Linked DNA regions of Homo sapiens. The protein of the gene in region 1 purifies or fractionates together with the protein of each later gene. This does not show direct contact. Each region holds a gene or a part of one and is shown on either strand. Other genes may lie near its edges.

The links.
Region 2: the proteins of SERPINA4 (region 1) and COL6A2 purify together in Homo sapiens (co-immunoprecipitation; one large-scale study listed by IntAct). This does not show direct contact.
Region 3: the proteins of SERPINA4 (region 1) and FKBP14 purify together in Homo sapiens (affinity purification with mass spectrometry; 4 studies listed by BioGRID and IntAct, with this or other methods). This does not show direct contact.
Region 4: the proteins of SERPINA4 (region 1) and SIL1 purify together in Homo sapiens (co-immunoprecipitation; one large-scale study listed by IntAct). This does not show direct contact.
Region 5: the proteins of SERPINA4 (region 1) and ITGB4 purify together in Homo sapiens (co-immunoprecipitation; one large-scale study listed by IntAct). This does not show direct contact.
Region 6: the proteins of SERPINA4 (region 1) and GALNT7 purify together in Homo sapiens (co-immunoprecipitation; one large-scale study listed by IntAct). This does not show direct contact.
Region 7: the proteins of SERPINA4 (region 1) and CANX purify together in Homo sapiens (co-immunoprecipitation; 2 studies listed by BioGRID and IntAct, with this or other methods). This does not show direct contact.

The regions. Positions count from the first base shown.
Region 1 is NC_000014.9:94,560,146-94,564,241, reverse strand, and holds the start of SERPINA4 (kallistatin isoform 2 precursor), read right to left. Parts: upstream 2,801-4,096; 5' UTR 2,748-2,800; exon of another isoform or gene 2,527-2,747; coding exon of another isoform or gene 2,433-2,526; intron 777-2,432; coding exon of another isoform or gene 760-776; coding exon 111-759; intron 1-110. UniProt on the Homo sapiens protein: Inhibits human amidolytic and kininogenase activities of tissue kallikrein.
Region 2 is NC_000021.9:46,108,112-46,111,611, reverse strand, and holds part of COL6A2 (collagen alpha-2(VI) chain isoform 2C2 precursor), read right to left. Parts: intron 2,698-3,500; exon of another isoform or gene 1,516-2,697; intron 1,142-1,515; exon of another isoform or gene 163-1,141; 5' UTR 136-162; coding exon 21-135; exon of another isoform or gene 1-20. UniProt on the Homo sapiens protein: Collagen VI acts as a cell-binding protein.
Region 3 is NC_000007.14:30,010,087-30,013,394, forward strand, and holds the end of FKBP14 (peptidyl-prolyl cis-trans isomerase FKBP14 precursor), read right to left. Parts: 3' UTR 501-3,308; downstream 1-500. UniProt on the Homo sapiens protein: PPIase which accelerates the folding of proteins during protein synthesis. Has a preference for substrates containing 4-hydroxylproline modifications, including type III collagen. May also target type VI and type X collagens.
Region 4 is NC_000005.10:139,188,369-139,191,868, forward strand, and holds part of SIL1 (nucleotide exchange factor SIL1 precursor), read right to left. Parts: intron 1-3,500.
Region 5 is NC_000017.11:75,738,459-75,741,958, reverse strand, and holds part of ITGB4 (integrin beta-4 isoform 1 precursor), read right to left. Parts: intron 2,288-3,500; coding exon 2,254-2,287; intron 2,080-2,253; coding exon 1,888-2,079; intron 1,602-1,887; coding exon 1,498-1,601; intron 1,167-1,497; coding exon 1,108-1,166; intron 978-1,107; coding exon 954-977; intron 1-953. UniProt on the Homo sapiens protein: Integrin alpha-6/beta-4 is a receptor for laminin. Plays a critical structural role in the hemidesmosome of epithelial cells. Is required for the regulation of keratinocyte polarity and motility.
Region 6 is NC_000004.12:173,245,311-173,248,810, forward strand, and holds part of GALNT7 (N-acetylgalactosaminyltransferase 7), read left to right. Parts: intron 1-2,669; coding exon 2,670-3,130; intron 3,131-3,500. UniProt on the Homo sapiens protein: Glycopeptide transferase involved in O-linked oligosaccharide biosynthesis, which catalyzes the transfer of an N-acetyl-D-galactosamine residue to an already glycosylated peptide.
Region 7 is NC_000005.10:179,722,967-179,726,466, reverse strand, and holds part of CANX (calnexin isoform d precursor), read right to left. Parts: coding exon 3,448-3,500; intron 2,808-3,447; coding exon 2,688-2,807; intron 1,811-2,687; coding exon 1,684-1,810; intron 1-1,683. UniProt on the Homo sapiens protein: Calcium-binding protein that interacts with newly synthesized monoglucosylated glycoproteins in the endoplasmic reticulum. It may act in assisting protein assembly and/or in the retention within the ER of unassembled protein subunits.

The DNA.
Region 1 (4,096 bases):
ACACAACGTTTTTACTTACATTTTTGTAAAAATATATTTAACCAGTCAACAAATTAGTGGGTTGGAGGCGGTGGTGTGGATTTAGCATATACCAATGATCTGACTCTCACCTTTGAAGTAAATGTAATTCACCAGCACCATCAAGACGTCCTTCTTGAGCTCACTGACCAAATCCACAATCTTCCCTCGAGTTTCCTTCTTGACGTGGTCGTTGATAAGCTGGATTGTGCCCACAGTGTCGTAGAAGTTGGTGTGGAAGAGTTTAGCCTCATAGACGGCCATGGTGTCATTCAGGAATTTTGCAAGGAACTTCAGGTTGTGGCTCAGGAACAGAGCACTGCCCACGCGTGTTTCCAGCCCATGGCCGGGGAGGTTGAGAGTGTGCAGGAGGTGCTGGAAGCCCCTATGGACATCGGACTCAGACAGCTCGGTGAGGTTGAAGCCCAGGCCCTCAAGGATCTGGCTGCGGCTGTGTGAGCAGGCCCCCAGGGAAAGCATGGCGTAGGCCGCCGAGATGCTCAGCGGGGAGAAAAAGATGTTCTTCCCCGGGGTCTCCGAAGCGATCAGGTAGTAGAAGCGGAAGGCAAAGTCAGCATTGGCAGGGGCTATCTTGAGGCTGGGGGAGCCCTCACCTGTCTCCAGAATCTGCTGGTGGGAGCTGTTACTGCAACTCTCACCATCATGCTCAACGTGCAGCTGGCCATGAGAAAGGGCCAGTAGTCCAACCAGCAGGAGGAGCAGGTAGTCGATAAGATGCATCCTCTGCACTCTCAGGCCTATGGGAGGGAAGAGAATGCCCAGGAAATTCCCCCAGAAGAACACCTGGCCCTACTGAGAAGGCTGGCAGTGGGCCAGCACCCGGAGATCGTGAGTGACACCCTCAACTCCTGCAGATGGGCTTGTGAAAGGCAATGTAACACCCACCACCTTCCACATGTATGGTGACAGCAACACTATTGGATGGCAATGTTTTAGACTTACAAGGCACACTCCTTGTGTCCATCATGTCATTGTGTTTCCCACCTGTGTGAGCTCTGCACAGCACTAGACTCCATTCTCACCCAACAGAGCAGGAAATGAAGACTCCCAAAGTGACTCACCCAAGTCACCTACCTAGCACATATCCCAGCCAGAACCCACATCCCCAGACTCAGGTGCTGCTTCTCCCACACTTGTCTTTCAGATGAGTTGATTTCATTAGTGCAGTGATTTTGCATGGAGGATGGCTATCCTCAGAGTTTATTTTAGGGTCTGTTCCACAAACATCTGTGGAGTGCTTTATATGGTTTACAAACCACTTTCAGCCATTTAGTTTGACCCTCCCACCCCTGTAGAGGTCAGTAGAACTGGTCTTTGTATTGTTACCCCGTACAGACAAGGACATGGATGTTTAATAAGTGACCTGCCCAAAGTTGTGGGGATAGAATTGGTACCCGTTTCATAATGAACATCTGTCCAAGAAAGGATACTCCAGTTTCTCCCCCAAATCTGCTCCTGCCCCATCAAATGGTCCCACCAGTATCCGGTTGTCAGGCCAAAAAGCTTCTAGGCTTCTATCCACCCAAAATCCATTTAATCCACTTCCATGACCTGCAGGGTTGGGTTTTTTTTGTTTGTTTGGTTGTTTGTTTGTTTGTTTGAGACAGGGTCTCACTCTGTCACCCAAGCTGGAGTGCAGTGGTGTAATCATGGCTCACTGCAGCCTTGACTTCCTGAGCTCAGGTGATCCTCCCACTTCACCCTTCCAAGTAGCTGGAACTACAGGCATGCACCCTTCCAAGTAGCTGGAACTACAGGCATGCACAGCCACACCCAGCTAATTTTTTATAGAGTTGGGGTCTCACCATGCTGCCCAAGCTGGTCTCCAACTCCTAGACTCTCCTGTAGGTTCTTCAGCCTCTCGCCCCCTCTTTTGCTATGATCCTCAACCAGGGCTCAGAAAACTTTTTCTGCAAAGCGCCAGATAGTAATATCTGTGGTTTTGCAGACCACACAGTCTCTGCTGCCACTACCCAACTCTGCTGTGGCAGCTGGAAACAGCCACAGACCGGACATGCATGAAGAGGCGTGGCTGTGTTTCAGTGAAACTTCACTTACGGACACTGAAATGTGAATTTCATATTATTTTCCTGTGTCACAAAATGTTGTTCTTCTATTGATTTTTCATAGCTTTATATATTTATCTTTTATACTTATCACTTATATTTTATATTTATATTTTACATCTTGCATTCTTAGCTCATGGGCGGTGGGCCGGATTTGACCTACAAGCTGTGGTTTGTTGACCCCTGACCTAGACCCTTGCAGAAAGCTTCCTAGTCTTTCTGCTCTCTGTTCTCCACTCAGCAGTTGGAGGGATCATTTAGAAACATACATAGGACCGCATCACTCACAGACACACCTCCCCTCCGGCATGAGCTCCCCAAGATCACCTGGATTGGCAGCCAGAAGACCTTGGCCCTCAGTCAGTGCCGCCCTGTACCAGCTGTGTGTCCCTGGGGGAGGCTTTTCTGGGTCTCCGGGCATAGTCACCCACCAGTGCCCATGGACCCTAAGTCGGGGCCTTTCTAGCCTGAGTATTTCTCACCTCTAGCAAGAGTGACAAAGTGTCCCAGCTTGCCTGGGACTTTCCTGGTTTTAGCACTGAAAATATATCCCAGAAGAATTATCAGTCTTGGGCAAAGTGGAACAGTTGGTCACCCTCCCTCTAGAGTCTCTCGTCTCCATTGTCTCAGGGGGTTACTCACGGCACAGTCTGTCCTGGAGTGGACCCCCTGGGTGGCTGTCTCAGCTCTGTCTTATCAAGCCCAGGAGGACTGGTCAAACCAGGCCTTCTCAGTACCACCCACTCTCTCCCGACCAGGTAATTATTAACAAACAGGCTACGGGTGCAGCATTGCCTCAACAAGGAAAACTCACCAGAAGTTGGTTCACCCCCTCCCAAGAAGACACCCCACTTCCCACCTGGGGAACCCCAAGAGGGTTCACTTCTTCATGTTTGTGCAGTGCATGGAGGTTCGCCTGGCCCTTGCTGCTCCCCGAGGGCCCGGGGAACCACTTGGAAAATCTGGTCTCCAACCAGCCCCTCACTAGCTGTGTGAAGTTGAGCTCATTTACTCCCTCTCTGAGCTTCAGTCGCCCACCTCCCTCCTACAACATGAGGGGCTGGATCAGACAGGGGGCAGCAAGCTCCAGCGCCGCCTTCCTAGATCAGGTAAGGAAGACTCCATGGTGCCACGGTGGGGAATGGTGGGGATGTGTGGAAGTGAGAGAGCCAGCTCTCTACAGGCCAGGCAAGACCCACCTGTGGGCAGGGCCTCACAGCAGGGCCTCCAGTTTGCAATCCTGGACTCTGTGATTTCTGAGGATAGAGTCCACTGAGATCTCATAGGTCAGACCATAAGGAGAGTACATCCCAGGGCAAGGGTGGCATGGGGTGGGACCAGGAACCTCCTTGGGCCAGGTATTCAATTTGCATTTTTCTTCTTTAACCATGGAATTGAACTTGTTCTCTCCCCAGTAATCAGTGAACCCCTGCACCCTTGCACCCTTGCACCCTCCTGGGGCAGCCATTTCTCAAGCTATGTGGGGAAGGACTGCAGGGAGCAATGTGGCCCTGGGTGCCCTGACTGAGATGACCTTGACCATTCAGGCATCCTCTAGCAGACTTTCTGGATGTGTTTCCAAGTCGTTGGGCCTTAAGGTAAGTGAAATATACACCACTGAGCAGCACAGTGGGCTGGGAGCCCTGAGCGATGTAGACATGGGGATGGCAGAGCAGGCACAAGCACAGCCCTGGAGCCAGCTGGCCTGAGGTCCAAAATGGGTCAACACCAGGACAAGAGAGGAAGCTAGCAGGTCAGGCAAAGTGAGAGCTACTGTCTCAGTGGATTCTCGCTTTCCCTCACTCATCTCTCTCTTTCCCTTGCCTATACACTCTAGGTATACTAAGCTTGGCCCATTTTACACATGAGAAAATGTAAGCCCGGAGACATTGTTAGCTCAGATTCCAGAGTCAGGGTCTGCTCCGTGGCCACTGAACATGAAGCCCATATTCCTTCCCAGCATCTGCTGCTTCTCCACTTGGACAGACTTT
Region 2 (3,500 bases), on another chromosome or scaffold:
CGGCCCCCGACCCCTGGCACCTGGGCAGTTGTTGTTTCTCTCGGTAGTGTCCGGCGAGATGACCTCCTGCTGCTGGGCCTGGATGGCCCCCAGGATTCCCCAGAGCAGGAGCACGGAGCAGGTGCCCTGGAGCATCTTGGCAGCACCTGTGGCCCTGAAGTCCTGCAACAGGGGTGGGGGTCGCTCAGACACCCCCAGTGCCTCTCCCCTGGCACCCTCCCCCATGGCAGGCGCACGCACAGCAGGTCAGCGGGATTGGGGGCACTGCCCTCAGTCTTCAAGGAAGCGGGGTCTGCGCCCAGCACACACCGTCACCAGCATCTGGACTGGGGGGCTTGCGCCCTCTTGCCCCACCCTGGGTGGGGTCACAGATGTTTAGTGGGTGCCTCTGGGCTCAGTTTTGGGTGGGATTTGGATGGTTGAGGCCCTTCCATGTCCTCCAGGGCTGGGTGGAGTGGGTAGCTGGGCGCGTCGGCATGGAAGGGAATGGAGCACCACTGTCTGGCGCCCCCCACTGCCTGGGGCTGCCCTGGAAACAGTGCAGAGGGGAGGGCGGGAGAGAGATCCCAGCTTCCCCAGACCGGCTCCCCTGCAGAGCTAGGCACTCTCTCTCCAGCCTGGCTCCATTCCCTTTAAACAGGACTTTGATAAGGAGGGAGGGAGGACTCTGTCAAGTGTAGGGACACAGCCGTCATTAGCCTGGCTTTCCTTTCTGTTGGGTGCCAGGACCCTGGGGCAAACAGATCCAGCCCTTGAACGTCCATCCTCCCTGATGCCCTGTGGCTTGGCCTAAGCTCCAGCTCCAGGAGGCCATCAGGACGGGCCTCACTGTGCTGCTGGCTCCGCAGAGTGGGGCTGGCAGCAGCCGGGCAGCTGGGCAGAAAGGGCACCGGGCCTGGTTCAGAGCGTGCAGTTCCAGGGGTAATGCAGGGATTGGAGTGCCGCCCTCTCCTCGGTGCAGATGGGAGGAGTGTCCAAGCACCGGGACTAGGGGAGGCGCTGCCAGGAGAGGGCCCTGAAGGGTTGCTGTGATTTTGCGGCGTCTGGAGTGGATGAGGTGACCCAGGCCAGACCTGCTCAGCCTGGGGCCCAGGGAGGAATGAAGTCCGTTCCCAAAGGTGCCAGCTCAGGCAGTTTGTGGGTGAGTTTCACAGCTTCAAGGACAAGCACTTCATGCTATTTAACTTGTTTTAGAACATAAAAAGATAAACTTTTTCCCAATTCATTTTTAAATGTTGCATAACCTGTGACCAAAGCTTGATAAAAAAAAAAGTCCCTAAAAGTAACTCTACAGATAAATATCACTATAAATATTACTGATGGCAGCGGCAGCCCATCTGGTGTGGCCGCTGCCATCACACTGGCTGCTCAGGGAGGGCCCATGGAAGAGGCAGACAGGCCCCCAACCCCGCAGACTGCCTCCCTGGGGGCCGCTGCCATGGGGCCGGGCCGGGTGGTGTGCTGGGTGAAGGGGAGCTCACGGCGGTGTTGCCCCTGTCTGGGATGCTGGCCCAGGTCTGGAGACCCTGCCCCAGGCTGCGAGAGGACATGGCCAGGTACCATGCTCCACGGAGCCAGCAGGAGCCGGGGATAAGTGGGATCCCTGCCCCTTGCAGTTTGGCGAGGTGAGAGTTCCCCAGGTACAACTGCCCAAGTCGTGGCTGTGGATCTGGGCCTTCTGCTCCATGGAGGAGGCAGGAGCCAGCCCCCACTCCTGGTGCAGTTTCAGCTGCCCCAACTGGGGCTGCTGACCCAGGCATCGCTGCACTCTTGGGGAGCCAGGGAAGGCCCCTCTTTCCCTTGTAGGCCTGGAGGTGCCTGTTCCCGCTGCCCAGCTTCTTCCCGCTCCCACCACCCACTCCAATCTCAGAGCAGAGTTGGGGCTGAGCCTGGGCACTGTCACAGCCTGGCCGGGTGGGTGCATGCTTGTGGCAGTGCTGACATGCCAGCCCCCTGCTGACTTGGCCCCCTCCAAACTGTGGGCACTGAGAAGTGCAGGAGGGGAGGCTTGGGGGGGTGCTGAGGGTGGCTGGGCACCGGTGCCCCTTGGTACCAGCAGCCTGGGCACCATGGATGGCTGCAGGAGGCAGATAGGCTCCTGGGCAGAAGAGGATGGGTCCCCAGTGAAGCCCCACCTTCAGGCTGGGGCAGGCCTGAAGCCTGGGGGCCGGGTTGCCCGTCCTACGGACCAGAGGGGAACTCAAGGTGCTTTCTTCTGGGCCTGCACATGGCTGCACATGGACCAATCAGCATGCACTTCCCCTCTCTGAGGCCTTTAAAAGCCCCAGGCTCAGTCAGAGCAGGGCAGAGCATGGCACGACCAGCTGCAGAGAGGAGGTGCTCTCTCTGCTGAGAGCTTCAGGACCTGAAGGGATGTCAGGACGACCAGCTGCAGAGAGGAGCTACCCTCTCCAGGGCTTTCTCTCTGCTGAGAGCTGAACACTAGTTGAGATGCCCTGTTTGCAGAGAGGAGACACGCTCTCGAGGGCCTCCTCTCTGCTAAGAGCTGCAGAGACAATGGGATGACCTGCCTGCAGAGAGGAGCCACCCACTCCAGGGCCTTCTCTCTGCTGAGAGCTGAACATTTGACAAGACAACCCGCCGACAAGACAACCCGCCTACAGAGAGGGGCTGCCCCCTGCGGGTCTCCTGTGAGCTCCCCTAACACTCAATAAAGCTTCTCTGTCTTGCACACCCTCCACTTGTCTGTGTACCTCATTCTTCCTGGACACAGGACAAGAACTTGGGCAAAGGCGCCACTGGCCATAGAGGTTTCAGGCCAGAAAAGTGACACCCTAAAAATCCCATAACATTATCACAAAAATTCTAGCCAATATTAAAAACTAAAATCCAATAGCATATTAAGGACCACTATACCAGAACTATAATATGAAGTTAAAGTACAGTGTTGCCACAAACACTAGGGAATACATTAATGTAAGTCACATTAACATAAAATGGGAAAAAATATGCAATTGCTTCAATAGATCCCTGAAACATCAATTTCTAACTAAGAAACAACAACAGCCAGACAAGGTAAAACCTAGTAAGAAATTTAGGAGTAGAATTAACTCTATAAAGGATATACATTTCAAATCAAGAGCTCACATCATATTTTACACAAAAAGCTAAAATAGTGGTTCTTATCTTTGTGGTCATGGACCCTTTTAAGAGTCTACACAATTTCACCTTACACAAATGCATAGATGCTCATATACAGAAATCATGTCCAGGAATTCAGGGATTCCATTCGTAGATCTAACCCTGGGTTAAAAAATCCTGCATTAGAAGAATGCTTACTACAGTACAAAAAAAATGGGGTGGGGGCAAACAGTGCAGATCTTACGCTACCATTCAGTGTTGTGTTGGAAGCCAATGCAATAAGACAGTAAAAATAAAAGTATAACTGTTGGAAAAGAAGAGACAAAACTGTCCTTATTAAAGATAGGATTGTCTACCCAGAAAATCATCTGAACAAAGTTTTTTTAAAAAAGAGAAAA
Region 3 (3,308 bases), on another chromosome or scaffold:
TAAGGAAAGATCCAAATGGCTAGATTCTTCATCTGAATCAGAAATCATTGTTTCTCGTTATTTTCATGGCAACCCCGCATTTCGTTTAATCAGAGGGTATTTTATAGCACTGATTTACGCAGTAGGCATAAATCAGTGTGTCCACCTGCTACACACGATAAAACCCTAAACCAAAACAACAGTGATAATAACCATCACCCTCCCTCCTCCCCCTCGAAAAACCAAAAACACTTTCTTCAGTGCTAAGAATTAACTATTAACTATCATGCTAAAGGTCAAGACTTAATGCATATTTCAAAAGAATTTAAATCAAACCACAGCTTTTCTTACAAATATACCTATACAGAGCAGATAATCAGAGGCACAAAGTGTCACTGTACCCCTCTCCTTCCACTACCTGTCCATCTTCCTCACTTTTGGTATAAAATTTAGAATAACAGGTAAGAAAATCAGTACAACTGCTGAGGAAATTGGTGTTGAAGAATTTTTCACAAAATCAGTTATCTCCCAAATAAACTTTATTTTGAAAAGAATATCACAATATAGTCATGTAAATTTAAATATGGCACACTGAGCAGTATTGACGCAAATTATATAGTCATGTAACCATGTTTCGGTCAATGTACAATATATATATGATGGTGGCCCCACAGATTATAATGGAGTTGAAAAATTCCTGTCACCTGCTAGGGATGTCTTGATCCTGACCCTGCATAGGCCTAGGCTAGTGTGTTTGTCTTGGTTTTTGACCAAAAAGTTTAAAAATTCAAAATTTAAATAGATAAAAGCTTATATAATAAGGATATAAGGAAAATATTTTTGTACAGCTATGCAATGTGTGTTTTAAGCTACGTTATTACTAGAAGAGTCCAAAAATTGTTTTTAAATAAGTTTCTAAACTAGAAAATTTACAGTAAGCTAAGGTTAGTTTTTTATTATTTCTATAAAAATTATAGAATTTTTTTTTTTGAGACAGAGTCTTGCTCCTCTGTCACCCAGACTAGAGTGCAGTGGTTCGATCTTGGCTCACTGCAACCTCCACCTCCTGGATTCAAGCAATTCTCCTGCCTCAGCCTCTCAATTAGCTGGGACTACACGCATGTGCCACCACACCTGGCTAATTATCGTATTTTTAGTAGAGATGGGGTTTAGCCATGTTGGCCCGGCTGGTCCCAAACTCATGACCTCGAGTGATCCACCCACCTTGGCCTCCCATAATGCTGGGATTATAGGCATAAGGCACCATGCCCAACCAGAAGAAAAACATTTTTTATAAATTTTAGTGTCACCTAAGTGTACGGTGTTTATAAAGTCTACAGTAGTGTACAGTAATGTCCTAGGCCTTTACATTCACTCACCACTGACTCATCCAGAGCAACTTCCAGTTCTGTAAGCTCCGTTAGTAAGTGCCCTATACAGGTATACCATATATATATATATACACACACCATATATATATATACTATATATATATATACCATATATATGGTATATATATATATATAGTATATATATATATATATATTTTTTTTTTTAGATGGGGAGTCACTCTGTCACCCAGGCTGGAGTGCAGTGGTATGATCATGGCTCACTGCAGCCTTGACCTTGCCAGGCTCAGGTGATCCTCCAACCTCAGCTTTTGTACTTTTAGCAGAGACGGGGTTTCGCCATGTTGCCCAGGCTGGTCTTGAGCTTCTGGGCTCAAGCAATCCACCTGCTGAGGCAGCCTCCCAAAGTGCTAGGATTACAGGCGTGAACCACTGCACCTGACCAGATTTTTTACAAAATCTTTTATACCATATTGTTATTGTTGTAGTATCTTTTCTGTGTTTAGATGTTTGAATAAACAGACACTTGCCATTGTGTTACAATTGCCTACATGATTCAGAACAGCAACATGCTGTAGCCTAGGAGCAATAGGCTATATACATGTCCTACATGTGTAGCAGGCTACACTATCTAGGTTTGTGTAAGTACACTCTATGATGTTCCCACAACGATGAAATAACCTAATTAGACATTTCTCAGAGTGCATCTCCATCATTAAGTGAGGTATGACTGTACATGTGAAGTCACAGTTCATGTCTGATTATTCCCACTAATAGAAGAGTACAAAGGTACAGTGAAACCAAAAAAAAGAGCAGATAACTTAAAAACCATAACTTGTGCATATGTTTTCATTTTATACTTGTGTCCAAATGTTTAGATGAGAACTGATACAAATTCACAGGTTTTTAAAAATGCTGCCTGAATAATCAAAACTCTTTTTACTTTTCTTGCCCTACTATAGATAGCATCAGTAATGTTTATACAGAGTAGCACCATCGGACAAACTACTTTCCCTTCTCCCATCATAGAGTATAAGGCTGTCTGTATTATGGCTTAAAACATTAGCAATGACTTAATAGTTTTCAACATACAGCTGATTTTGTTGGAGAAAGGTGTTACAGTATAGTCTTGTTAAGAACTTTATGTTTTACTGAGGAAAATGTCAACATATAATCAGTGAAAGTGGTCTACATATGATGTAATAATTGTTCATAATTCTTTTTAAACAACAAATGGGGGTAAATATGAATGAAAGAAGTAAAACACATCTGGAACCTCGCGTTGTTCAGGGTTTTTGAGGCAATTCAGAGCTAACTGCAAGATTATGCTATGAAACTGAAGCCATTTCTATATCATAGTGAGAATTCTAATGTACCAGAAACAGGCAGAAAGCCATCTTCAGAGAATGAAGACTCAAAGATAAACAACGGCACAGCAAACTGAAGAGAGAATTAGACCCCAGGGAAATTTTCACTTTTCATTAGTAGAGGGCAGTAGAAGACACTGAACTTGGGGACTGAATACTGGTTCTGCAGGTTAGTGCTGACCCTGGGCATAACAGTCAATCTTTTTGAATGACAATTTCCTCGTCTATAAATTAGGTACAGTGAGATCCACCAGCTTGTTTTATGACTCAGAGCCATGAAAAGCGAAGATAATAATGCACTTAATATCATTTTGTACACTATAAAGGGCTACTCTTAGAAAATGAAGATTTGATAACTTTAAAAAAAAGAATTAAAGATAAAAGCCAATTTAAAATAAAATTATATATATTTTTTTCTTTTTTAAAATCCAGGATAGGTATTTATTCAATAGTAGCTGCTGTAGGTCTGCTTCTTTTTTTTTTTTTGAGATGGAGTCTTGCTCTGTCACCCAGGCTGGAGTGCAGTGGCACAATCTTGGCTCACTGCAACCTCCGCCTCCCGGGTTCAAGCAAATCTCCTGTCTCAGCCTCCCGAGTAGCTGGGACTACAGGT
Region 4 (3,500 bases), on another chromosome or scaffold:
ATGTACTAATTCCTATTGTTTACCAATTCAGATTGGCCTTCCCTCCAAATAGTGAGTTTTTTTTACCTTATTTGTTTCATACAGAGAAGTGAGGCATGGTCTATAGTCATAGTGCTTGGATTTTTTTAAAAACTCAACTTGAGATCAAAATAATGGGATTGGCTCCAGGGGCTTTTTCCTCACTCCCTTGCTACATGGAACCAGTTGTACATCTCAAAGAGAGAGACAGTCAACTTGAGCACAAAATCTGGGTCAGTGTATGTGACTGTGCCTCCGTGACTTTGCACAAGGACCAGAAATGAGCATACAAATCAGAGGAAAGCAGTGACAAAAGTCAACATTCCCTTGATGAGCTAATTGCTTCATGTCTGGCTGAAGAGCAGAAAGCAAGAGATAAGGAGAACATACTATCTGAGGGACCAGGCAGGCTCTGGACTAGCCAGCCCTACCCCAATAAAATCCCCTCATCAGACACTGCCCCCGAAACAAGGCCTGCTGGCTTGAGCACCTGACAAGAGAGAACCTGAGAAAGATAAGCACTAAGCTGAGTAAGGAAGGAGATGGCAGAGAAGCAGCAAAGTTCCTTGCTACTCACAACTTTTAGTTATTCAGCATGAAATACCTATAACTATTGGTATAAATAATATGTAATACAAACCAACTAAGACAACAATGAGGTGATGGTTAAGATAAAACTTGCTTGGTCAGCATAACCTATCCTGAAACTACGACGTGGCTCAGAAACTGGAAACTATTGTTGTCAATAATGATGACAACACAGAGCATTTACATCAGGGGTCCCAAACCCCCGATACTGGTCTGTAGCCTATCAGAAACCCATCCAAGGAGGTGAGCAGCAAGTGAGTGAGCAAAGCTTCATCTGTATTTACAGCTGCTCCCCAACGCTTGCATTAACGCCTGAGCACCGCCTCCTGTCAGATCAGTGGCAGCATTAGATTCTCATAGGAGCACAAACTCTATTGTGAACTGTGCATGCAAGGGATCTAGGTTGAACACTCCTTATGAGAATCTAATGCCTGATGATCTGTCACTGTCTCCCATCACCCCCAGATGGGACCGTCTAGTTGCAGGAAAACAAGCTCAGGGCTCCCACTAAGTCTACATTATGGTGAGTTGTATATTTCATTACATACTATAATGTAATAATAATAGAAATAGGTTGGGCATGATGCCCATAATCCCAGCATTTTGGGAGGTCCAGGCGGGTGGATCACCTGAGGTCAGGAGTTCAAGACCAGCCTGGTCAACATGGTGAAACCTCATCTCTACTAAAAATACAAAAATTAGCGGGTGTGGTGGTACACATCTGTAATCTCAGCTACTCAGGAAGCTGAGGCAGGAGAATTGCTTGAACCTGGGAAGCAGAGGTTGCAGTGAGCCAAGACTGTGCCACTGAACTCCAGCCTGGGTGATGGAGTGAGACTCTGTCTCAAAAATAATAATAACAGAAATAAAGTACACAATAAATATAATGTGCTTGAATCATCCCCAAACCATCCCCCACATCCCCCAGTCCATGGAAAAATAGTCTTCCATGAAACTAGTCCCTAGTGCCAAAAAGGTTGGGGACTGCTGTTTTACATTGTGCCAGAGGAAGCACCATATCTATTCTCTGAATTCTTAAGATAGCTATAAAAATACATATTACTATTCCCATTCAACAGATCATAAAACTAAGGCTTAGAGAAAATAAGTAACTTACAATCTGACAACTAGTAAGTAGATATCAGAACGTAAATACAAGTGAGTCTGACTCCAAAGTGTGTTTAAACCACTCTGAAATACACTCATTCCTTCTCTCTTTCTCTTAGAGATGTCTTGAAGGTTTGCTTGGATCACCAGATAAGGTCCACTGTTACATCTGGCCTCATTCTTTACAGAAACACACAAGTCTGGCCTGAGCACTATTTGTTTCTAACACGGAGGAAGGCTTCAAATTCATTTCCTCTGAGGTAAGAGCAAGAGAAACACATTTCGACATGAGTAGGAGGAAAAACAGCACGACAGCAAAAATCTTCAACCATGAGGGTATAAGATCATGTACAAGGCAGTAAGTGGAGACAGGGCCTCCTCCTTCCCAGGAGACTTTTAACTGCAAAAGCATCCTGCATCTTTACAATGCTTTAAACAATTCTAACAACTTCTATGGCCACCCTTTGTAAGACCCCTAGCCTGTGTCCCAGCTCTAACACTAGAGTCCCACTATTATGTGGGTGGCCTAAAAAAGATCCTACCATTACGTGGCCCACTTCACTTCTCTGGGGCTCAGTTTTTGTCGTCAGAAAAATAAAAACCTATCAAATGCAAAATGGAGGCATTGGGCAGTAACAGAACTAGAAGTGTATCTCCTGACTCTTCACTCATCCACAGTACCACAAACAGCCAGCCCTGATGTTTGCAAGGAAATAAAGATCTCTATAATATCTTCCAGCCCAAAACACAATCATTTTAGACTTTAGCAGCTGGGTCCAAGGATGGAGACTTAACTTCAAGAATACAGTCAAACCCAACTCCCCATGAGTATGAGATGGGGTGTGGGGAAAAACAAGAAGCAACCTTAGGCCAGAGACAGTGGCTCACACCTGTAATCCCAGCACTTTGGGAGACCGGGGTGAGCAGATTACCTGATGTCAGGAGTTCAAGACCAGCCTGGCCAACATGGTAAAACCCCATCTCTACTGCAAATACAAAAATTAGCCGGCCATGGTGGCAAGCACCTGTAATCCCAGCTGCTTAGGAGGCTGAGGCACAAGAATCACTTGAACCTGGGAGGCAGAGGTTGCAGTGAGCCAAGATCACACTCACACCTGGGTGACAGTGAGACTCTGTCTCAAAAAAAAAAAAAAAAAAAAAAAAGCATCCTTAAATACTTACTTACAACTTACTTATGAGCTGGCCCCTTAAGCTTCCAATACACACTATCCACAGCACTCAAAGCATGGCCAATCAATGTTGTCTGTATCGATTGTCCTACTTTATGTTATTCCACTGGGCTGAAGCCTGCTAGTTTTCTAGTTTGGTCAGATGGCTGCTTTCCCCTTGGGAGCCTCACAAAAATGAGACTATCCCCAGAGGTAAAGAAATGTCCATTTAAAAGCCCACTGGTATAGCTGGGCATGGTGGCTCACACTTGTAATCCCAGTGCTCTAGAAGGCCAAGGTAGGGCATCACTTGAGGCCAGGAATTTAAGATCAGCCTGGGCAATGTTGCAAGCAAGACCCTGTCTCTTTAAAAAAAAAAAAAAAAATTAAATTAGCCAGGCATGGTGGTGCACACCCATGGTCCTAGCTACTTGGGAGGCTGAGGTGGGAGGATCACTTGAGCCCAGGAGTTGGAGGTTGCAATGAGCTATGATCACACCACTATACTCCAGCGTGGGCAACAGAGTGAGACCCTCTTAAAAAGGGCCAGGCACAGTGGCTCACGCCTGTAATCCCAGCACTTTGGAAGGCCGAGGCCGGCAGATCTCGAGGCCAGGA
Region 5 (3,500 bases), on another chromosome or scaffold:
CCTCATCTGCAAAATGGGAACAGCAGTGATCTCTACCTCACAGGCTTGACGAGAGGGTTGGATAAGATGACCACACACGGAAAGCCCTTAGGACAATGCTTGGCCCGTAGCAGGATAAGAAATGCTGGTCAGCCATTCTTTTTTTTTTTTTTCAAGACGGATTCTCACTCAGTCGCCCAGGCTGGAGTGCAGTGGCGCAATCTCGGCTCACTGCAACCTCTGCCTCCCAGGTTCAAGGGATTCTCCTGCCTCAGCCTCCCAAGTAGCTGGGATTACAGGTGCCCACCAACACACCTGGCTAATTTTTGTATTTTTAGTAGAGGTGGGGTTTCACCATGTTGGCCTGGCTAGTCTTAAACTCCTGACCTGAGGTGATCCACCCGCCTCAGCCTCCCAAAGTGCTGGGATTACAGGTGTGAGCCACCACGCACAGCCAACGGTTCTTACTGATGGTCATGTGCTGAGATTCTAGCTCTTCTGTCCCTGCATCAAGACCCCCTCCTCACTCCCTCTCTCTCCCCATGAAGGGCCAGGACTCGATGTAGGACCTGGGAAAAAAGGTGTGTGACCTGCTGGCCCATCCTCTCGGTAACCTGCCTGGTCCCCAGAGGTGCACCCAAGATCAGGGTCTTGGACACTGGAGCGGATGGAGATGGGTACCTGCTATCGCTGGTACCGGGTGGGGGGCTGGACAGTCACCTATATGAGGGCAGGGACTGGGTTGATTTGCTTTTGCCTGCTCTAGTCCAGGGGCCACTTCATAGCAAGCACTTCACATTAGCATTTGTTGAAGAAATGGTCAAAGGAACGAATGAAGGTCCGAACCTGACGGACACATCTGACCCTCCCTTCCTATGGGATGGAGATGGAGTAGGGACGGACGAGGCAGTGGCTGGGCTGGGGACAGGCGGGCAGGAAGTGGGGGCCCTCTCACCCACGAGTCTTCTACTCACTTTTTCCCGGCATTGGGCTGCTGCCTGTGGGGACAAAGAGGGCGCTGTGAGCTAGATAGCCCTGAAGTGGAGGCCTGATCGGCCTGGGGGCTTCGGCTCCTGGAGTCCCGGTAGGAGCGGCTCCCCCACCCAACCCGGGCACCCCGGGACTCACCGGAACTTGGTCTGCTGGAGCTTGTGTACACCGGAGATCTGCCTGTAGACCTCGTTCAGCTGCCAGGCAAGGGAGGGGCGTGAGGCTGGGCCTAGGCCACCCCGTGGCAAGCCCTCAGGCTGGGGACCCAGGGAGCCAGGCAGCCTCTGTACCCAGAGATCCTCAGGGTTGGCTGGGGCATGCCCCGTGGGGCAGCATCCTGGGCCCAGGCTCTGGCCTTCTGCCCTCTGGAAACAGATCCCAGGATGCCCCCTGCCAGGCACAGGTCCAGAGAGACCCCTCTCCCCTAGTTAATGAATCTCGGTACCACGACCGCATTCGCTCTGCCCTGCCCACCTCACCCGCCCTCATACCCACATCTCCGGCCAGGCCTAGTTCCTGGGTCCTTACGTTCTCCTCCACCTCCTGGCGCAGCTGGGCGCACTCCCGAGTGTCAGGCTTCAGCAGGTTCTCGGTGCAAAGGCGGGCCAGGCGCAAGGACAGCCCGTAGGGCACTAAGGAAAGGCGGTGGGAGGGGGTGAGATGGAGGTGGTCAGCCCCCTGCATGACAGGCACCACAGAGCATCCCTCCAGCAACCATGCTAGGATCAGGGGATGCCTGGCCAGCAGGCCACGCACACCGAGGCATGAGGTTCATAGCACCATCAGCACAGGGCAAAAGGTGGCTGAGCCCTGTGCCTGCACCCCACACCCAGAGAAGAGGCATGCTGTGATCCCAGATCTGGAACAGAGGGCCCGAAGGGCACTGCCCAGAGCTGTGGCGCCCAGCCCCGCCCTCACCCAGCTCTGTGGGGTTGATGCTGGCGGCATGAGTGGCAAAGCCAGGCCGCTGCATGTTGTTGGTGACCTTCCAGCGGACCACGTCACGGCCCTTGAGGTTCCCGCTGCGCAGCATGGGCGTGTCCAAGTGGTCAGAGGCCATCAGGTTCTCCCGCAGCATGTAGTGGTCTTCCTTAAAGCCCACCATGTGACCTGCAGGATGGGGTCCTCAGCACGGCACCCCTCCCTAGACCCGCACAGCCCAACCTCTTCAGGTGGGACCCCAGAGCCTCCAGCCTCTGCCGTTCCAGGTTCAGCTTCCCTCCACCCCAGCTCAGAGAAAGAGCAGTCAGAGCCCCTGCTGCCCCTGCGATGCCAGGCCCATACCTCGGTTGCAGCACGGGAGAAGTGCCAGGCAGGCCTAGGAGACAAGGTGGGTGAGGGTGAGGCCTGAGACAGCTGCCCTGGCCCAGGTAAGCCCTTCCAGCCACCCCGCCCCATGCCAATGGTCAAGAGGGGTGACAGTGCCTCCCCAGACACCAGAATATCCAGGTGGTAGCAGGGTGTAAGCATGGCACACAAGGGCATAGAGGGGGATGGGGGCAGAGGGTTCCCAAAGTTTGCGCCGTGGAACTCTCATCCTGCCGGGTGCTCTGTAAAGGTTCTGTGGTCAGGTTCACTTGGGAAGCACTGAATTCATTCCCCATGCCCCTCTTGCAGGTTAGGCACAGGACTTTATCAAAGCCTCTGAGAAGTCCTGCAGAGAAGAAACTTGTTTCTTTTCTTTTTTTTTTTTTTGAGACAGGGTCTCGCTCTGTTGCCCAGGCTGGAATGCAGTGGCACGATCGCGGCTCACTGCAACCTCTACCTCCCAGGTTCAAGCAATTCTCCTGCCTCAGCCCCCCTAGTAACTGGGATTATAGGCATCCACCTCCATGCCCAGCTAATTTTGTATTTCTAGTAGAGATGGGGTGTCACCATATTGGCCGGGCTTGTCTCCAACTCCTGACCTCAAGTGATCCACCCGCCTTGGCCTCCCAAAGTGCTGGGGTTACAAGTGTGAGCCACTGTAACTTAAATTTAAGAAACTTGTTTCTTAAACCTTCTTTTTTTTTTTCTTTTTGAGTCTCACTCTGTCACCCAGGCTGGAGTGCAGTGGCATAATCATAGCTCACTGTAGCCTCAAACTCCCAGACTCGTGATCCTCCTGCCTCAGCTTTCTGAGTAGCTGGGACTACAGGCACGCGCAGCCGTGCCTAGCTCAAACCTATTTGATCACATAACTCCTTGCCTATGTAATGCACATTAATATCCCACAACACTGGGGGTTACTACGGAGTGTGGTCTGCCGCCTACAATCCCTACTCTGAGCTATGCCATCCTCCACGCTTTCTCTTGTCTGTTCTCCCCAGTGACCGCCAGCTGCGGGCGGGCAGGGCCCTTTCTTCCCTGTTGTGGCTCCCAGGCCTTTTGCACGTGGCTGACCCCAGAGCAGGTGCTCTCAGGGATCTGGCCACTGATGGCTGATGGAGTGGGGGTCCTGGGCGGGCACTAGAGCTGGGGAAGATGTGGGCTCAGCTTGCCTCAGCCCCTTCTGAGGACTGTGCATTTATCACCTGCCTCTCAGCCCCAAT
Region 6 (3,500 bases), on another chromosome or scaffold:
ATTTAAATTTGCAATTTTGGTATTAGCATAGGTCAACCTAAACTATGGCGTGTATTTCACAATTTGATTTCATGTACTATCATATTCTATATTCTTCTAATATTCAATTTCTTCTCTATGGAACATTAGGTAACTTAGTGGATGCTATGGCTATGGATGCTGACATCATATGAGCTGTTCCAACTACTCTTCTATATTTAATAACATTTCCTTACCTCCCTGTTTACCAATTCACTTGAGCCTGTGAAAGGAAAAACTGAAGTGGAGGAGAATGTCTTTCTCCTTTTTGTGTTATACTTGTTTCAGCATCAACAACTGGGAACCAGTTTGTTACAACATTTTATAATGATATCTCTATATTAATTTACTTACAACACTAACATAAGTAAGTATAATTTTGGAAGGAGCCAGGAGATAAATTGGAGAAACGAACACTTTTTCCATCATCAGAATCACCCCTTACCTCTCTCTTACAGTCATGCGTGCCTTACACTTTACTTAGTTAATTCCCAAGAGAATCTTCAGTTCTTCCTGAATATGATTTCCAAAAAAACAGCCTTCTACTCACTTACTCTGACCCTTAGTATGGCTCACAGGTTAGGCTCAAGCTAAGTCTCTGAGGTGGGACAATCAGAAGGCTGATCTAGAGGCTTTCTCAACCCTGTACCACACATGCCTGAAGAAAGGCATCACATTTATACAATCAGGCTGTGTTGCCTTTTCTATTTAGGGGGGAACTTGTGAAAAACTTTGAAATGCTCCCAAAAGATGTCTGTCTAACTCAACTTTCCAGCTTATCTCACCCTTTCCTATTTTACAATCCTGGAAATTACAGAAAACTGAGAGTGATGCAAAGGACTCTTGCCCATTGAAATGGAAATAGTTCTGGTGGAATGCAATTGATTATTGCCCTATGCAGAGTGACCAATTTAACCAGATTTGCATCTATTTGTAAATTCTTTGCAATATTCTTGATGTTTATGTTTGTCCTTTGGATTTATTTTTGAACCAGTTGTAATATCTTACAGGTTCCTTTTTTAATGAGTTAGTTAAAATTTATGTCCCATCTTCAAAAAAAATTATCTTGTTATATATACACATGTATGTTTATACATGCATATCACATCTGTAGAAAAATTCACAAGAAGTTGGTAGCTGTAATTACCCCTGCAGAAGGAAAGGCAGGAAAGCTTGCTTTTCACTACATGCCCTTTTGGATGTTTTGAATTTTGTGTTGTATGCCTATGTTACCTAAACAAATAGAAAATTTTTAAAAATTTCTTTTTGAACTCTTGAAAATCAAGACTTAGCGATCCCTTGACTACTAATTTCACGTCTGAAATAACTGACTTTCTATAAAGGTTTTTGCCTCTAAATAAACTACTAATAGAGAGCAGCCTACACATCAACATCATACTTAGAGACTTACTTTTGTATTTTTTAAGGCAAACTAGTAAACTTTACTTTTCAAGGTAGCTCTAACCCTGTAGAAAGATTTTGGTCGGGTGGTGCTAATTCTATGACTACTCTGTTGGGGAATCACACAGTTTTAGTGTAGAGGGAAGTGGCAGACCCATCAGCCTATTTTGCATTTATTCTGTATGCACCTTGCCTCTTCACCAGCTGTGTCCTCTATAATCCCCTTGTCTAATTATAACGAGCAGCCCTCCCATTAAGCCAGTGATTCTCAGGCTTAGATGTATATTAAATCACCAGGAGTGCTTTTAAAAATCGAAATGCTTAGACCAATTGAATCACAATGTCTGAGGGTAAGACACAGACATTGGCATTTTTTAAAGTGATCAAGGTGATGCCAATGTTGAGAAACAGTGTCTTGTGCGAAGAATGGTACTGGCTTAGGAAAAAACTTAACAAATAATACCTCAGAAGCAAAAGCACTCAGGATATCTGACTGGAAGATCTGCATAGGTGATGAAGACGGCCCAAACAGAAAAGAGAGGCACCCTTTACTGTGAATGAATATCCTTGTACAAAGAATCTGTTTTGACCCATGCTGCTTCTGGAATGGGGCAAACTAGATATGGGGGAGTGGTTTAAAAGCCCGAGCTGACTTAGTTACAGATATTAGCTTTTTTTATACTTCTGATTTCAGATAAACTCTCAGTGAGTAAAAAATACCAAATCGGGACTCTGCATATCCCCGCCTTGTTCCTCTGCCATTTGGGGCACTGAGCCAGCCTGCTGACAGTGACATCCATCTAATACCACTGCCACCATATGGTTGTGCTACCGACAAAAGGTTATATTTATCACACACGGTACAACTGGGAAAACCACATACTGTACAAACATGACCTATTAAGCATCTGTTTTAATCAAAGATTCTAGAACTTCTTTGCTCTAACCCTTAAAAATATGCTTTATTAAGAGGTCTTTGATAGAGAAGTAGATTTGTAAAGGGAGAAGTAAAAATGCATCCTTTCATTAATTTTGAAATAGTAAGGCGAGGAGATAGCCTATTTCTTGGTATTTCTTCTCTACCCTGAAAGATATCTCCTAATGGGAAGTCCTGATTAATGGCCCGCTTGTATTCCAAACTGTTTTATTGTTGCCTCAGCCTTTTTCAAAACCTGAAAATTGGTCTCATGAGCTCTACTGTGGTGGTTTGCCTTCATGTACTCATTGTATATCCCCTCCCTTTTGTATAGGAAGACAGAGATGTCAATGACCCCATGCCCAACCGAGGCGGCAATGGACTAGCTCCTGGGGAGGACAGATTCAAACCTGTGGTACCATGGCCTCATGTTGAAGGAGTAGAAGTGGACTTAGAGTCTATTAGAAGAATAAACAAGGCCAAAAATGAACAAGAGCACCATGCTGGAGGAGATTCCCAGAAAGATATCATGCAGAGGCAGTATCTCACATTTAAGCCTCAGACATTCACCTACCATGATCCTGTGCTTCGCCCAGGGATCCTCGGTAACTTTGAACCCAAAGAACCTGAGCCTCCTGGAGTGGTTGGTGGCCCTGGAGAGAAAGCCAAGCCATTGGTTTTGGGACCAGAATTCAAACAAGCAATTCAAGCCAGCATTAAAGAGTTTGGATTTAACATGGTGGCAAGTGACATGATCTCACTGGACCGCAGCGTCAATGACTTACGCCAAGAAGAGTAAGCACACATCCTCTTCTTTCTAAAAATGGGGCAACTGTTGTTTTCATAGGTTTTTAGGTTTAGTTAGATTGTTAGAATGAAGAAATAATTATTGATGCCTTTATTTCAAGGAAATAAGAGGATCTTTGAACAGCAAAATGGTCAGAAGGAGGCAGTCCCTCCATTTATGCCATTGTATTGAAGGTGGGCTGTATAAAATTCTGGGGCCCTCTACGTCAGTGCTATTCAAAATATGGTCCCCAGACTGGCACTGGTCAATGAATTTTTTGTTACCAGTCCACAGTGAGAAAATGAGCTTGCACCAGGATGTAAGTCAACTACACTATTAAATATTTTGTTTAGTTTAAGTGACAACTTTTTAATAGCA
Region 7 (3,500 bases), on another chromosome or scaffold:
ATAGCTGGGACTACAGGCGCCTGCCACCATGCCCGGCTAACTTTTTTTATTTTTAGTAGAGACGGGGTTTCACCGTGTTAGCCAGGATGGTCTCGATCTCCTGACCTCATGATCTCCTCGGTGGCCTCCCAAAGTGCTGGGATTACAGGCGTGAGCCATCGCGCCCGGCCACTATTTTTTTTGAGATCGACTTTGCTTGTCACCCAGGTTGGAGTGCAATGGCATGATCTCGGCTCACTGCAACCTCTGCCTCCAGGTTCAAGTGGATCTCCTACCTCAGCCTCCGGAGTAGCCGGGATTACAGGTGCCCACCACCACGCCTGGCTAATTTTTGTATTTTTAGTGAAACGGGGTTTCACCATGTTGGCGAGGCTGATCTCGAACTCCTGACCTCAGGTGATCCACCCACCTTGGCCTCCCAAAGTGCTGGGATTATAGGCGTGAGCCACCTTGCTCGGCCAACAATTTTTTTTTTTTTTTGAGACTCAGTCTCGCTCTGTCGCCAGGCTGGAGTGCAGTGGCGCAATCTCGGCTCACTGCAACCTCTGCCTTCCGGGTTCAAGTGATTCTCCTGCTTCAGCCTCCCGAATAGGTGGGACTACAGGCGCCCGCCACCATGCCTGGCTAACTTTTTTATTTTAAGTAGAGACGGGGCTTCACTGTGTTGGCCAGGATGGTCTTGATCTCTTGACCTCGTGATCCACCCACCTCGGCCTCCCAAAGTGCTGGGATTACAGGCGTGAGCCACCATGCCTGGCCAACAATTTTTTTTTTTTTTTTTTTTTTGAGACAGAGTCTTGCTCTGTCACCCAGGCTGGAGTGCAGTGGCCCAATCTCGGCTCACTGTAAGCTCTGCCTTCCCAGGTTCACGCCATTCTCCTGCCTCAGCCTCCTGAGTAGCTGGGACTACAGGCACCTGCCACCATGCCCGGCTAATTTTTGTATTTTTAGTAGAGATGGGGTTTCACCATGTTAGCCAGGATGGTCTCGACCTCCTGACCTCGTGATCTGCCTGCTTCGGCCCCCCAAAGTGCTGGAATTACAGGCGTGAGCCACCGCACCTGGCCAACAATTTTTTTTTAAGAGACAGGATCTCGCTGGGTCTGGTGGCTCACGCCTGTAATCCCAACACTTTGGGAGGCCCAGGTGGGAGAATCGCTTGAATCTGGGAGGCAAAGGCTGCAGTGAACCGAGATCACACCACTGCACTCCAGCCTGGGCAACAGGGCCAGACCATATCAAATAAATAAATCAATAAACAAACAAACAAACAAACAGCTGAGCATGGTAGCGCATGCCTGTGGTCCCAGCTACTTGGAGGGGTGCTGAGGTAGGAGGATCACTTGAACCTATAAGGTCAAGGCTGCAGTGAACTGTGACTGTGCCACTGTACTCCAACCTGAGTGACAGAGTGGGACCTTGTCTTAAAAAATAAAAAAGAGAGAGAGAGAGAGACAGGGTCTCACTCTGTTGCTCAGCTGGAGTGCAGTGGCACTATCCTGGCTGACTACAGCCTTAAACTCCTGGGCTCAAGTGATTTTCCTGCTTCAACCTCCCAAAGTGCTAGGATTACAGGCTTGAGCCACCACGCCTGGCTAAAAACAATCCTTAACTTGACTGTAAAGGTTTAACAACATCGTAGGGTCTTGGCTTAAAGCAGATTTTCTGGACTCTGTTTCTTACCAAGTTTCTCTTCTCCTTCCTCCTCCTCATCTCCCTTGTCCTTTTCCTCTTCCTTCTCTTCTTCCTCTTCCTTCACATCCGGTTGAGGTGCATCAGTTTTCTTATACTCCATACCACTGGTCTGTTTCTGAAATGTTCCCCAAAGTACAATTTTGTTTACATGTTCATGTATTATGTTATATAATTCCTGAATGCCTACAGGCAAAGTTCTGTTCCAGGCTGTATACAGGGATAGATATACAGAAACGAATAGGATGTAATTCCTACCCTGAAGAGCGTGTATGTACGTGTGTGTATGCACATGTGCTTGTGTGTTTCAAGGTAGAACAATAAAAACAAAAGGGCCAGGCAGGAAAATAAAGGTCAAAAAAGTCAAGGTGACTGAGGCACCGATACACAGAATAGTGGCAGAGGCTGAGGCTGGAAAAGGAACTTGGGATCCAGTTACAAAGTGCTATGAATGCCAGATGAAGCATAATCCTCATTTAGCAGAAGTAGAGTCCAAAATAAGACTTTCTTTTTTTATGATAGCATGCAAAAAAAAAAAGGCTAAACAAGAAAAACTAACAATAAGGCTGTGGTACCCCAACATACTGTTTTGAGAGTGGGGAAGGTGAAGGCAGAATGGATAATGAGGAATCAAAGACTGAATTACAAAGAATAGAAATAGCTATGCCAGCAGGCAAAGCTGATTATTGCCCAAGTGGCTAGTTTGGTATCTAAGTTTATTGTTTTTTTTTAGAAAGTTGCTGCCGAACACTATGGAGAGTAACAGATTAGGATAAATAATAATAGCAACCAAGGGGCTATAAATCCTGCTCCCATCTGGGCACAATAAACGGCCACTGAGGAACAGTAAGTAAGGTTTCTGAAGTCAACACCAAACATGGCTTGGTCATTACTGAGCCACTACAAAGAAAACCTCAGGCAACATATCTTAGTTATTTTTAATAATCACTAGAGTGATGTCTCTAAAATTGATTCTAAAAAAAAAAACTTCCTACCTTTCCAGAACAGCAGAAGAGGATAACCAGGAACACAGGAAGGGCTACAGTTAGAATATAGACTACCCACAGCCACGGGCGCTCTTCAGCTGCCTCGATCATCTGCCCCACAACGCCTGGCTGAAAAACAAGACAGGGCTGATTGAAAGTTCCAGCTTTTGACACCAAACATAGGCCGTGCTGTTTTTCTGCAGTTCAGTTATGGCATGGCACTACGCAGGACCTTCTTTTTCAGAGAAAATGCTCATAAAATGTAAAAAAGAAATTAGAGAAAGCCTCCATCCTCTTGCTCTCCTTATAATCAAGATGATTTCACTCTCATAGGTGCAAAAGCTGGCTTCTACATCACCTGCAAAAGGCTCCCTTAACCTCAGGATCCAGTGAATTTCTTATCTCAGTATCCCTGGCTCTCCAATTCTTAAATCGGCCACATGACCAGTTGTTTGAAAATTCTGTATGTAGTGTAAACCGAGATTCAACATATAAGAGTGTATTAAAATATAGCCTAAATGACAAATTTCGAAATATATACCCAGACAAATAATAAAAAAAAAACCCTGAACACAAACAGACTCTAAAGCCACTACATTAGACTAATGAAATCATGCCCCAAAACCCAATATTGTGTCTTTTGCAGGCATATGGTTATACTTTTTATGCCAATATTGCCAAATGAAGAAAAAAAACCTTAACACAGACTTTCACAAAATAACAGCTCCTTACAATAACAGACACAAATGCACAAGCAGCAAACACGAACCTCAGCAGCCCCATCAGCAGCTTTCTTCAGGCCCCATCCATCATTGGCCCAAT